Homo sapiens: one gene and its partner. The protein of the gene in region 1 interacts with the protein of each later gene in a biochemical or structural test. Each region holds a gene or a part of one and is shown on either strand. Other genes may lie near its edges.

Region 1 (7,027 bases):
ACCCAGATAGGACTTTGGATAAAGTTTACTAAGAAAGGCACTGGATGAGAGAAATCAGGCAGCTGAGGATGACGATAAAATAAATAGAGGTATAGATCATGAGCATTTATTGTGCAAGACTGCAGCAAATTTTAGGCACAATAAACTCCATTGGGCATGGCTAAAAAGAAATGGAGTGTTTTTGTGCAATAGTTTCCATAAATATATCATGCATACATTACCAATTTCCAAATACCTAAATGCTCACAAACCCATCTCTTACTCGAAGAAATTCTATAAACTGACCTAGACACAGTGATGAATTCATGGAACTAATCTCTCAAGTAAGGAGCTAATATATATAAATATATATATATATATTATATATAAAAGACTATTTTTGGAGCAGATTTAGGTTAACAGAAAAATTACAAAGAAGGTAAAGAGAGAGTTCCCACATACCACCCTGCACATACACAAGGTTTCTCCTGTTATTAACATCTTGCCTCAACGTGGTACATTTGTTACCACTGAGGAGCCAATATTCTTACATTATTAAAGTTCATAGTTACATTGGGGCTCACTCTTTGTGTTGTACAGTTCTATGAGTTTTGACAAACGTGTAACGTCCTGTGTCCACCGTTACAGAATCATACAGAATGGTGTTGCCGCCTTAAAAAGTCCCTGTGTTCCACCTATTCATCCCTTCCTTTCTCCTCCTAAACTGTTGGCAAACACTGATCCTACTATCTCCAGTTTTGCCTTTTCTAGAATGTCACATAGTTGGAATCACGCAGTATGTAGCTTTTTCAGACTGACCTCTTTTATTTAGCAATATACATTTAAGGTTTCTTCGTGTCCTTTTGTAGCTTGATAGCTCATTTCTTTTTAATCACTAAATAATACTCCATTACATGGATGTATCACAGTTTATTCATTCACAGATTGAAAAACCACTTGGTATTTCCAGCTTTGAACAAATATATGAATAAAGCTGCTACAAACATTTGTGTGCAGGTTTTTGTGTGGACGTAAGTTTTTGTTCATTTGAATAAGTATAATGTTGTATCATTTGAAAAGCTGTGGTTACCATTGTAAAAAACTGCCAGACTGTCTTCCAAAGTGACTGTACCATTTTGCATACCTATCAGCAATGAATGAGAATTCCTGCTTGTCGTTCCACATCCTTTCCAACGTTCAGTGTTTTCAGTGTTCTTTTTTAAAACTTTAGCCATTCTAATAGGTATATAATGATATCTTGTTTTAATGTGCAATTCTCTAATCACATATATTAATAATCTTACCATCTGTTTATCTTCATTGATGACATATCTGTTCAAATCTTTTGCTCATTTTGTAATTAGGTTATTTTCTTATCATTGAATGTTAACAGATCTTTGTATATTTTGGATACAAATCCCTTTTTCAGAATATGTTTTGCAAATATTTTTTCCTGTGGCTTTTCATTCTCTTAACAGTGACTTCCTCAGAGCAAAAGGTTTTAGTTTTAATAAAGTCCAATTGATCCATTTTTCTTTTCATAGATCATACTTTGGTCACCTGAATTTTCTTATCTTTTAGAAGCTGTATAGTTTCACAGTTTACATTTAGTTCTATAATCCATTTTGAGTTAATTTTTGTGAAAAATTTAAGGTCTGTTTACAGACTCATTTATTCGCATGCAGATATTGTTATACCAGCACCCATTTGTTAAAAAGACTATCCCTTCTCCATTGAATTGCCTTTGCTCCTTTGTTAAAGATCAGTTTCCTATATTTGTATCAGTCTATTTCTGGGCTATTCTGTTTCAATGATTTATTTCTTTATTCTTTCATTGATACCACACTGTCTTGATCACCGTAGTGGTAGTAATCAAGGATAGTGTCAGTTTTCAAAAACTTTATTCTTCCACTTCAATATTGTGTTGGCTATTCTGGTCTTTTGCTCTCCATATACACTTTAGAATCAGTTTGTCAATATCCATAAAATAACTTGCTGGAATTCTGAATGGGATAGTATTGAATCTGTAGATCAAACTGGGAAGAATAGATATCTTAATAATATAATATTAAGTCTCCCTATCCATAAATGTGGAACATCTTATTTCATTCAGATATTCTTTTATTTCCTTCATCATAGCTTCATAGTTTTTCTCACATAAATCTTGTACATATTTTGTTAGGTTTACACCTAAGGTTTTTGTTGTTGTCATTGTTTTTGTTTTGTTGGCACAAATGTAAATGGGCTTATGTTTTTAATTTCAAATTCTGGTTGTTCACTGCTATATATAGGAAAGCAATTGACTTTTTGTAAAACTTTGTATCCTGCAACATTGTCATAATCACCTATTTAAAAAAAAAACTTAATCAGTTCTTTGAGATTTTATACATAATCATATCATTTGTGAACAAAGATAGTTTTATTTATTCTTTCTCAATCATCTTTTATTATTCTTGTTTTATTGCATTAGCTAAGACTTCCAGTGTGATGCGGAATAGGCATGGTAAGAAGGAACATCCTTGTCTTGTTCCTGATCTTAGGGGGAAAGCATCTAGTTTCTTACCATTATGTCAGCTATAGGTTTTCTATGTTCTTTATCGCATTAAGGAAATTCCCTTCCGTTCCTAGTTTTTATCATGATTGAGCGTCGTATTTTGTCAAATGTGTTTTCTGCACTTATTGATATATTCACATTTTTCTTTAGCTAATTGATGTGATTACATTGATTTCTGAAACTTGAACCAACTTTGCATACCTAGAATAAATCTCTATTGGCTGTAGTGTGTAACTGTTTTTATACATTGTTGAATTCAATTTGCTAATATTTTGTTGAGAATTTTTGTATCTGCTCATGAGAGATACTGGCCTATAACTTTTCTTCATAGTAATTGTCTTTGCCGAATTTAGTATTGGGTAATGCTAGTCTCACCCGATTAGTTAGGAAGTATTATCTCTTCTATTTTCTGGAAAAGACTGTAGAACATTGATGTCATTTCTTCTTTAAATGTTTGGTAGAATCCACTAGTAAAACTATTTGAGCTTGGTGCTTTCTGCTCTGAAAGGTTATGGTTGATTTAATTTCTTTAATAGATCTAGGGATATTTAATTATCTGCCTATTAATTACACCTGCCACTGTAATGATCTCTTATTTCTCCTGTGTGAGCTTTGGCCAATGATATTTTGAAGTATTATTTCCATTAGGATTAAGTAAATATTCAAGATGATGACTACTATGAATTATTCAAGTCATAAAGAAGTCCTTGCGTATTAGGAGTTAGTTAGAAAAAATTTACCTTTGCTACCGGTAAAGGTTCTAATAAATTTGATTGCATATATTTAATCTACTCAAAAACTAAGTTCAGATTTGATTGCTGAAAGAGGCATAGAAATTTATTTTAAATTGACAGTGCCAAACAGAGCAACAAATTAATGAAACATCAACAACAGTGAGAGGCTTTTCATGTTTTCTTACAATCCCTTTTAAGATCAGAGAACATTTTTTCCCCAAAAATTTCAAAGGAAGAGTCAGAGCCAAAGCATTTTGAAAAGAAAAAGAGTTTACTTGAAAAGGTTCAAGGGAGTCAGACTTCAGAAAAACTGGATAAGCAAGTGAAAAATATAACAGGTATTTAAAGAAAAATATAAAGAAGATTACCATGATTACTAAGTTTGCATTAATTTGTTCATGGAGAAAAAACAAAATCTTATCACATGATGATCATATTCAGAAAGATCTTGCAACATGAGCTAAATAAAAGTCAAGAATAAAATGGTGTTTGCTGGGGATCTGGGATTATAAGAAATACTCAATGTTTCATTATTTTGGGACCAGAAATTGACAGGGTAACGCTGTTATTTTTGGTTAATCTTAGGGTACAAGGTGCTTCATCATGATGGAAACAAACAGGGCATGATTTCTGCTTTGCTTCCAGAAGCATAAAGCAAATGTCACTACTACAAAATATAGATAGGATATTTCTTATAACTCTAATCACTGTTGTAAGTAAATAAAAATCCAAAGTCAAATCATAGACTCTCAATTACCATGGTTTTTACACATTTCTACCATCCCTTCCTGGTGCACTGTATTGAGCCATACTGAGCTATATTTTTCTACTTCACAACTTTTCACTTACGGGAAGACAGCTATTGTCCCCCACACCACCCTAATGTGGGCAAGAGGACCACTTGACCCTCATATATTTAACACTCTTGACCCTCATATATTTAACATTCATAATTATGTATTGCCTAAATACTCACTGTTGTAGTCACTGAAATGCCTGTGAAATAATTTTTAAAACTGTATTTACAAAAGAAAGCCTATTTCTAGTAATGGTGATGGAAATTAAGAGAAAATATAGACATCTATAAAAGTGTGATGGTTCTCAATGACAAAATATGATTTATGAAACAAATGGCTAAAATCCTAAATCTTTTGCATGTTTGTACTCAGGAATTCTCTCTCTGGTGAGATGTGGCAGCTTTTTCCTTCCCCTCCCTCTTACTCCTCCCCATCTCCCTTCTTCCATTCCTTCCTTTCCTTTTACATTTTAAAATAAATGAGGGTGGGAAGACCTGTACATACAAACCCATACATGTACCTATACCTCATCTTCTTAGAAGGATTTTAAACTCTGATTCTTCCATTATGTTCACCATCCTTCCTTAAAAGTCTAGCTATAAGGGATAAATGTCAGTGTCCAAATGTCCAAAATCTAACATAATATCTCATAATTATGATAGGTACTTGATGCTAGGAGAAATAAGAGATTTGACAGTGATAGGTGAGAAAATGTCCTGATATACAATTTTGACAGTACATGTAGGATACTCAAAAGGAATTACGCCAATTCGGGTTATAATTCTTTCTAGTTATGAAGAATATATTATTTCTGTTAACATACATAATCTAGAAGGCAAGCACGGGCTTTTGAAGGGTCATAGAAAAAAAAAATGACCAAATCCACTGAGGACAACTTGGTGATAACATTTTCTCTTTTTCATTTCAAAGGTGTCCTTGAATGGCCATTTTGGACAAAACTGGTTGTGGTAGCCATTGGCTTCACAGGAGGTCTTGTCTTCATGTACGTACAGTGTAAAGTCTATGTTCAGTTGTGGCGCAGGCTGAAGGCCTACAACCGTGTGATCTTTGTACAAAATTGCCCAGACACTGCCAAAAAACTGGAGAAGAACTTCTCATGTAATGTAAACACAGACATCAAAGATGCTGTGGTAGTGCCTGTACCACAAACAGGTGCAAATTCACTGCCATCTGCAGAGGGTGGCCCCCCTGAAGTTGTATCAGTCTGATGGAACCTGTTGGGAGTTTCTTCACCGAAGAATATCTTTCTAGCCCTCAGCCACTACAAATGACAGAAGTGATCTTGAATTATTTACTCCCTTCAGCTCCTCCTTTCTCCTACTGACACATTTTTCCTGACTTTGTTCAAAGAGGAAAGGAGAAAAACAAACAGACCAAATGCCCAGGAGCCCATGAAGTAATAGCGTAAAGTAAAGTATGATATGGAAATGTGAAGTTTGCAAGAGAATGATTTCCAAGACAATTAAGAACTACTGGGGCAATGAATGCTTTTAGGCAGTAATCAAAGATTAAATGGACCCATGATACTCTTCTTCACAGTAACAGGGGAAAAGTTCAAGAATACAGACTTGAATTGCGATGTGTATTACTTCTAGGGCCTTGTAATGTTAACTGTCTCATCTGGAAATAACTAACATATTTGGTTTTAAGCCTGAAATTGTCTGCATTATCCCTAAGTCACATTGGAAGTGAACTTGGAGGATGCATATTTTGATATGCTTTGACAGCTAACAGATTTGTATGGTTTAGTGGAGTCTGGTTATTTTGACAGATGCATGTTTTTTTTAAATAGATGCAATATACATTTGAAGACATTGATATTTGGAATTAATTACGTTTGTTTAAGTCACGCAAAAGATTTTCAGAAAATGTTCGGATATAATTAGCTCTGTTAAATACCCACAGAACTGTTATCAGGTCTTATATTTATTTTCATCTGGTTCCTCTAATACAGTGCTGTCCAATAGAAACACAACAGCCACAAATGCAGGCCACAGATGCAAATATTTAACTTCCCAGTAGCCCTATTTTAAAAAGTAAAAATAAATGTTTGTTTGTTAAAATGAATTTTGATTTTTTAAAAACACTATATGTTATTTCAACATGTCATCAATATAAAAAATTGATTGATTGATTGATAGTTTACATCTGTTTCTTGAACCAAGTTTTCAAAATCCAGTTGGTAATTTAAAAGTACACTTCAACTTGAATTAACTATATTGGATAGCACAGCCGTAAAATTAGAGACTAAGCTTCTGCTTTATTTAACAGTTGTTGAGTATTTCAAAACAGTTTAATTCATTCTTTTATTTCAAAGTCACAAAAGTTAGTTATGATTTTTAAAAGCATTAAATTAAGTGTCCTCATTTTAAAGTCAGATGAAGTTCACATCTCTAAAGGGTAAAAATCCAAAAGTATAGAAAGATAAAACAATCAATCTGCCTATAGCAGAGTTGTGAAATAAATAAATTGTTACTATGAAGTACTTACAATAGGGGAATAAAATTACCTATTTTTGTTATTAAATCAAATGTGTAAGGCTTATTTCATCCATATGAGGTGTCAACTTGACAGATGATGAGTAATTATGACTAAGAATCTAGCCCTTACTTTTAAAAGCTGACAGGATTTCCCTTGCTCAGTTAGAAAACAAAAATATTCAACAGATTCTGTGATAAGTAATTAATCGTTTAGGTTTGACAGTTGATTATTGTGTTCTTTGCATATTCATGTAAAACTGATGTGTGAATGACATTGCAGTGAGCTAGATTAACGGTGATTATAGATACAGTAGCCTGTCAAAGAAAGATGTCCTACATTAAAAAAGGTGACTTATTTTTGTTAGCTGTCATTATTTATTAACATGAAAAGGCAATGATGGCCATAAGAACCAAAGCATGAGTATCACACTGCACAAATCTGGGTATCACATGGATGCACTT
Region 2 (7,027 bases), on another chromosome or scaffold:
CTCTCAGCAGGTGCTGTTCTATGCGCTTTGCATATATAATCTCAGTTAATCCTCACGGCAAAACCCCACGAGGTGCGGTTTAATCTTCCCTTTTCACAAGTGAGAAAACTTCGCTTGAGGCCAGCAGGCAGCAGGGCTGGGATTGCAATCTAGCTAGTGTGGCTGCAGAGCAATGGTTTCTTAACAAATCTTTGTTCTTTTGAGTCCGAGCCTCCGTACCCCCCACGATTGGGGTGATGGTGAACAAAATCCTGTCAAATAAATGGGCTGTGATGCCTCTTGAAGGCTTGGGGAGGGGCAAAGAACTTTTCAGATCATTAATCTCTAATGTCAACCAATATGGCTTTTTTTTTTTTGAGACGGAGTCTTGCTCTGTCACCCAGGCTGGAGTGCAGTGGCACGATCTCAGCTCACTGCAACCTCCACCTCCCAGGTTCAAGGGATTCTCCTGCCTCAGCCTCCCCAGTAGCTGGGATTACAGGCGTGTTCCACAACACCGGCTTATTTTTTGTATTTTTAGTAGAGACAGGGCTTTGCTGTGTTAGCCAGGATGGTCTCGACCTCCTGATCTTGTGATCCACCCGCCTCGGCCTCCCAAAGTGTTGGGATTACAGGAGTGAGCCACCGTACCTGGCCTTTTTTTTTTTCTTTTTTTTTTTTGAGACAGGGTGTCACTCTGTCACCCGGGCTGGAGTGCAGTGACACGATCTTTGCGACCTCCGCCTTTCAGGTTCAAGTGCATCTCCTGCCTCAGCCTCCTGAGTAGCTGGGATTACAGTCGTGTATCACCACCCTTGGCTAATTTTTGTATTTTTAGTAGAGATGGGATTTCGCCATATTGGTTAGGCTGGTCTCAAACTTCTGACCTCAAGTGATCTGCCTGCCTCGGCCTTCCAAAGACCTGGGATTATAGGTGTGAGCCATCACTCCGGGCCCAATATGGCATTTTGATTGGGATGAAGGGTGGAGGAAAATCAGTGTGATTTTTGTATCTATCTCTCTAGCTATCTATTATTTTTTGAGATGAGGTCTTGCTCTGTTGCTTAGGCTGGAGTGCAGTTGGGCAATGATGGCTCACTGCAGCCTCGACCTCCTGGACGCAAGCCATCCTCCTATTTTAGCCTCCGTAGTAGCTGGGACCACAGGCACACGCCACCCTGCCTGGCTAATTTTTACTTTAATGTGTAGAGCTGAAGTCTTGCTATTTTGTCCAGGCTGGTCTCAAACTCCTGGCCTCAAGCGATCTGCCTGCCTTGGCCTCCCGAAGTGCTGGGATCACAGGCATGAGCCACGGTGTCTGGCCTCTGCAGTTATTCTTATTCTTTGCTTCTCTCCTGGAGACCTGCTTCTTGCCCTTCCCCATTCATGCATAGAGACCACAGGGTGTGGGCTGAGTCCCCAGGGCTCCCCACCTCACCCCACTCTACCCTTGACTTCCATTCCTCTTTGGTTTAAGCAGAACTCTCAATCTTGGCACTGCTGACATTTGGGGCTGGATCATTCCTGGTGGTGGGGGCTGTCCTGTATGTAGAGTGTTGAGCTGGAACCATGGTCTCCACCCATGTGGTCCTGGGAGGATCCCCTTCCCCCCAGGCATGACAACCACTAATGTCTCCAGACATTGCCAGGCACGTCTCTGCAGGAGTTAACCTTTTCCCTGTCTGAGACATTTACCCATCTGGGCTCTTGCTCTTTCTCCTCTCTTTGTTCAATAATCCTCGGCCGGGTGCAGTGGCTCACGCCTGTAATCCCAACACCTTGGGAGGCTGAGGTGGGCGGATCCCCTGAGGTCAGGAGTTTGAGACCACCCTGGCCAACATGGTGAAACCCCATCTCTACTAAAAATGCAAAAATTAGCCAGGTGTGGTGGCGGGTCCTTGTAATCCTAGCTACTTGGGAGGCTGAGGCAGGAGAATCGCTTGAACCTGGGAGGCAGAGCTTGCAGTGAGCCGAGATCACACCATTGCATTCTAGCCTGGGCAACAGAGAGAGACTCTGTCTCAAAAAAAAAAAAAAAAAAGAAAAGAAAAAAGAATCTTCATTTACCCACGTGCTTTTTCAGCCTCTAAACACCCAGTACCCCCCAATCCCCATTACCTACCACTGACCTCCAGCCTCCACCCTGTCCAGCTTCCCCAGGCCAGTCCTCCCTGCCCTTTCCATCTCACTCTTTTCTCACTGTTCTGCCCCCAGCATCTGGCTTGCATCTCCGCTGCTTTACCGATGGCTCTCGAAGTTAATCTCTCATCTCCCAGTTGCGTCTCCTGCAGCCTCACCTCACTTGACCCCTCTGGGTTTGACATTGCCAGTCCCCCCTCCTGGAAGGCTGTGTCTCCCGTCTCACCTGTGCCTAAGTTCTTCTGTTTTACTGTTCTCTTCTCCTTCTACCTGGGCTAAGATGTTGGCTCTCTCTTCCCAGAGGGTCAGTGTTTCCTTTAATCTTCTCTCAGCTCACTTTTTTTTTTTTTTTTTTTTCACTTCTTCACCCGGGCTGGTGTGCAATGGCATGATCTTGGCTCACTACAACCTCCGTCTCCTGGGTTCAAGCAATGGTCCTGCCTCAGCCTCTCCAGTAGCTGGAATTACAGGCATGTGCCACCCCGCCTGGCTAGTTTTTGTACTTTTAGTAGAGACAGAGTTTCACCCCATTGGCCAGGCTGGTCCCAAACTCCTGACCTCAAGAGATCCACCTACCTCAGCCTCCCAGAGTGCTGGGATTACGGGCATGAGCCACCGTGTCCGGCCCTTTTTTTTTTTTTTTTTTTTTCCAATTTTTATTTCTTTTTAGAGACAGGATTTTGCTCTGTCACCCAGGCTGGAGTGCAGAGGTTTAGTCCTAGCTTACTGCAGCCTCCAAGTCATGGCCTGGAGCAGTCCTCCCACCTAGGTTCCCCAAGTAGCTGGAATCACAGGCAGGTGCCACCATGCCCAGCTAATTGAAAAATTTGTTTGTAGAGACAGAGTCTCACTATGTTGCCCAGGCTGGTCTTGATTTCCTGGCCTCAAGTGAGCCTCCTGCCTTGGCCTTCTGAGAAACTAGGATCACAGGCAGGCACCACCATGACTAGCTAATTTTTAAAATTTATTTGTAGAGACAGAGTCTAGCTATGTTGCCCATGCTGGTCTTGAATTCCTGGCCTCAAGCAACCTGCTTGCCTCCGCCTCCTGGGTACCTGGGCTCACAGACAGTCACCACCATGCCTGGCTAATTAAAACTTTTTTTTTTTTTTTGTAGAAACAGGGTCTTGCTATGTTGCCTAGGCTGGTCTTGAACTCCTAGTTCAAGCAGTCTTCCCTCCTGGGCCTCCCAAGTGCTGGGATTATAGGCATGAGGAACCATTGCGCCCAGCTAAGAAATTTACATAGATTCCGACTTCTTCATCTGAACAGGGGTCAGCAAACTATGGCCCTCAGGCCAAATCCCACGGTTTTTGTAAATGCAGTTTTATTGGCATGCAACCACACTCATTTGTCTACTCATCATCTATGACTGCGCAAAAATGCCCCGACACGGCAGGTTGAGTAGTTAAAACAGGAATTCCATGGCCAAAATATTTACACTTTGGCCCTTTACAGAACAGCGTTTGCTGACCTCTGATCTGGAACAGACGCCTTGAGGTTTCATTCATGATAGCATGCCTAATAGCTTGTGCAGTCCCTGGTACAACTCGAATGAAGTGAGTGAAATGAAACGCTATGTCTTTCTCTTTACACCGCAAGAGATGTTAAAGAAACGTGTGTCATTTGCTGCACTGAATATACGGATTCCAAGGATGAGAAAAATCACCGTGATGTTGCCTACTTAGCCATGTGTATTTATTTAAACAGCTATATTGGCATTGAATGAGGATTTCATGCTCTCAACCCTGTATCTAGAACCCAAAATATAACTGGTGTATATAATGAGATTTTTTTTTTTTCTCTCAGGCCTCTCTTGTGTTAATTTCTGTTAAGAATACTTCTGGGCCAGGTGTGGTGGCTCACGCCTGTAATCCCAAGCACTTTGGGAGGCCGAGGTGGGTGGATCACTTGAGGTCAGGAGTTCGAGACCAGCCTGACCAACATGGTGAAACCCCATCTTTACTGAAAAAATACAAAATTAGCCAGGCGTGGTGGCGCATGCCTGTAATCCCAGCTAGTTGGGAGGCTGAGGCAGGAGAATCGCTTGAACCTGGGAGGTGGAGGTTGCAGTGAGCCGAGATTGCGCCACTGCACTCTAGCCTGGGTGACAGAGCGAAACTCCATCTCAAAAAAAAAAAAAAAAAAGAATATTTTTGGCCAGGTGCAGTGGCTCATGCCTGCAATCCCAGCACTCTGGGAGGCTGAGGTGGGAGGATTACATGTGTCCAGGAGTTTCAGATCAGCCTGGACAACACAGCAAGACCCTGTCTCCACTAACAATAAAACAAAAATTAGCTGGGCATGGTGGCATGTGTCTGTAGTCCCAGCTACTTGGGAGGCTGAGATGGGAGGACCTCTTGAGGCTGGAAGGGCAAGGCTGCAGTGAGCTGTGATTGTACCACTGCACTCCAGCCTGGGCAACAGTGAGATCCTCTCTCTGTCTCAAACAAAAAAAGAATACTTCTTGGGGTGGCCTGGTTGATATTTTGCAGCTGCATGGTATTTACAGTTTTTAATTAAATAGTGACGGGTAATGCATTCTCATTGCAAAAAGAAAAATTACAAAAGTGTAGAAAGGAAAAAAAAAACACAGAAGTCCTTCTGCAAAATCTTGTGGTGGGGTGCAGTGGCTCACACCTGTAATCCCTGGACTTTTTAGGAAGCTGAGGTGGGAGGAACACTTGAAGCCAGCAGTTTGAGACCAGCCTGGGCAACATAATGAGACATTATCTCTAGAAAAAGTTTAAAAATTAGCTGAGCATGGTGGTGTGTACCGGTAGTCCCAGCTACTCAGGAGGCTGAGGTGGGAGGATCGCTTGAGCCCAGAAGGTTGAGGCTACAGTAAGCCATATTCATGCCACTGCACTCCAACCTGGGTGATAGAGCCCGACCCTGTCTCAAAAAGAAAAGAAATAATAAAAAAAAATCTTGTCCCCCTGTCCCCAAAAGCATTCCATTCATGTCCAGGGAGGTAACTGTGCCATTGGTTTATGTATCTTTTTGATGTTTAGTAATTTTTTAGGCTAGGTGTCATGGGGCCACTCCTGTAATCCCAGCACTTTGGGAGGCCGAAGCAGGTGGATCTCTTGAGCCCAGGAGTTCAAGACCAGCCTGGGTAACATAGCAAGACCCCGTCTCTACAAAACCCTACAAAAAAATTATCCAGATACAGTGGTGAGCACCTGTGGTCCCAGCTACTAGGGAGGCTGAGGTGGGAGGATCACCTGAGCCTGGGAAGTCGAGGCGCCAGTGAGCTGTGATTGCACCACTGCATCCAGCCTGGGTGACATAGTGAGACTGTGTAACAACAACAACAACAAAATATTTTAAACATTATCATACAGTAAAATTGGCTTTTTAAAGGTGTACCATTTTATGATTTTTAAGCCATGTGTAGAGTTGTATGGCTATTGCCACAATTAGGATAGAGAACAGTCTCGTTGTTGTCCAAACTCCCTCAATTCACCCCTTTATCACTAAACCACCTCCACCCCTAACCACAGATCTGTTCTCCATCCCTATAGTTTTCTCTAGACTTTAAAAGATTTTATCTTATAATTGGATTAATATTCCTAAAGTTGAAATTTTAAATTTGAGTCTGGTTGATCCTCATCATTCCCAGATCCCATATTTTCTTTTTAAAATTTAAAATTTAAATTTTTATTTTGAGAGGCAGGTTCTTGCTCTGATACCCAGGCTGGAGTGCAGTGGTGTGGTCCTAATTCCCTGCAGCCTCCAACTCTTGAGCATCAACGATCCTCCTGCCTCAGCCTCCTGAGTAGCTGGGACTACAGGCACACACCACCATGCTCAGCTAGTTTTTATTGTTATTTATTTATTTATTTATTTTTGAGACGGAGTCTCACTAACTCTGTTGCCCAGGCCAGACTGCAGTGGTGTGATCTGGGTTCACTGCAACCTCTGCTTCCTGGGCTCAAGCAACTCTCCTGCCTCAGCCTTTCTAGTAGCTGGGGTTACAGGCACGCCACCATGCCCGGCTAGTTTTTTTTATTTTTAGTAGAGATGGGGTTTTACCATGTTGGTCAGGCTGGTCTCAAACTCCTGGCTTCAAGTGATCCGCCCACTTCAGCCTCCCAAAGTGCTGGGATTACAGGCGCGAGCCACTGTGCCCGGCCTAATTTTTAACTTTTCAGCAGGGATAAGGGCTCGCTATGTTGCCCAGGCTGGTCTCGAACTCCTGGCCTCAAGTGATCCTCCCATCTTGACTTCCTAAAGTACTGGGATTACAGGCATGAGCCACTGCACCTGGCCCCAGACCCTGTATTTTTGAATTCACCTACTCACTCAAATGTATTTGTAACCCTCAAACCAGCATGCTCAGTGCCTTTCTGGTCATTTTAGGACACTCATAAGTACGAGTCTCAAATGTGAGGTCAAGTAAGAGGGCATTCCACCTTCTTGCTTCAGCCCTTATGCGTCAGATTCATACAATCTGCACACTGAGGATTAAAACTAGTCCTTTTTGAGCAGGCGCAGTGGCTCATGCCCAGCGCTTTGGGAGTCCGAGGCGAGTGGATCACGAGGTCAGGAGATCGAGACCATCCTGGCTAACATGGTGAAACCCTGTCTCTACTAAAAATACAAAAAATTAGCCAGGTGTGGTGGCGGGCGCCTGTAGTCCGAGCTACTCCGGAGGCTGAGGCAGGAGAATCACTTGGACCCAGGAGGTGGAGGTTGCAGTGAGCCGAGATTGTGCCTCTGCACTCCAGCCTGGGTGACAGGGTGAGACTCAAAACAAAAAACAACAACAAAAAAACCTGAGTCCTTTTTGTGGTTATTTGGTGCCACATTTTTAGCATTTTTGTGCTTTCAGTTGGTGATGGGGCTGTTTCAAATGCCCCCCAGGGTGCTGAAGCCCTGCTCTCTACTCTTCCTTGGCTAAGGA

Evidence for each region. Proteins that work in one complex are often made in the same cells at the same time.
Region 2: of the proteins of MARCHF1 (region 1) and INSR, one has a biochemical effect on the other in vitro, tested with the Homo sapiens proteins (one study listed by BioGRID).

Annotation. Positions count from the first base shown.
Region 1 is NC_000004.12:163,527,014-163,534,040, reverse strand, and holds part of MARCHF1 (E3 ubiquitin-protein ligase MARCHF1), read left to right. Parts: intron 1-4,994; coding exon 4,995-5,293; 3' UTR 5,294-7,027. UniProt on the Homo sapiens protein: E3 ubiquitin-protein ligase that mediates ubiquitination of TFRC, CD86, FAS and MHC class II proteins, such as HLA-DR alpha and beta, and promotes their subsequent endocytosis and sorting to lysosomes via multivesicular bodies.
Region 2 is NC_000019.10:7,284,399-7,291,425, reverse strand, and holds part of INSR (insulin receptor isoform Long preproprotein), read left to right. Parts: intron 1-7,027. UniProt on the Homo sapiens protein: Receptor tyrosine kinase which mediates the pleiotropic actions of insulin.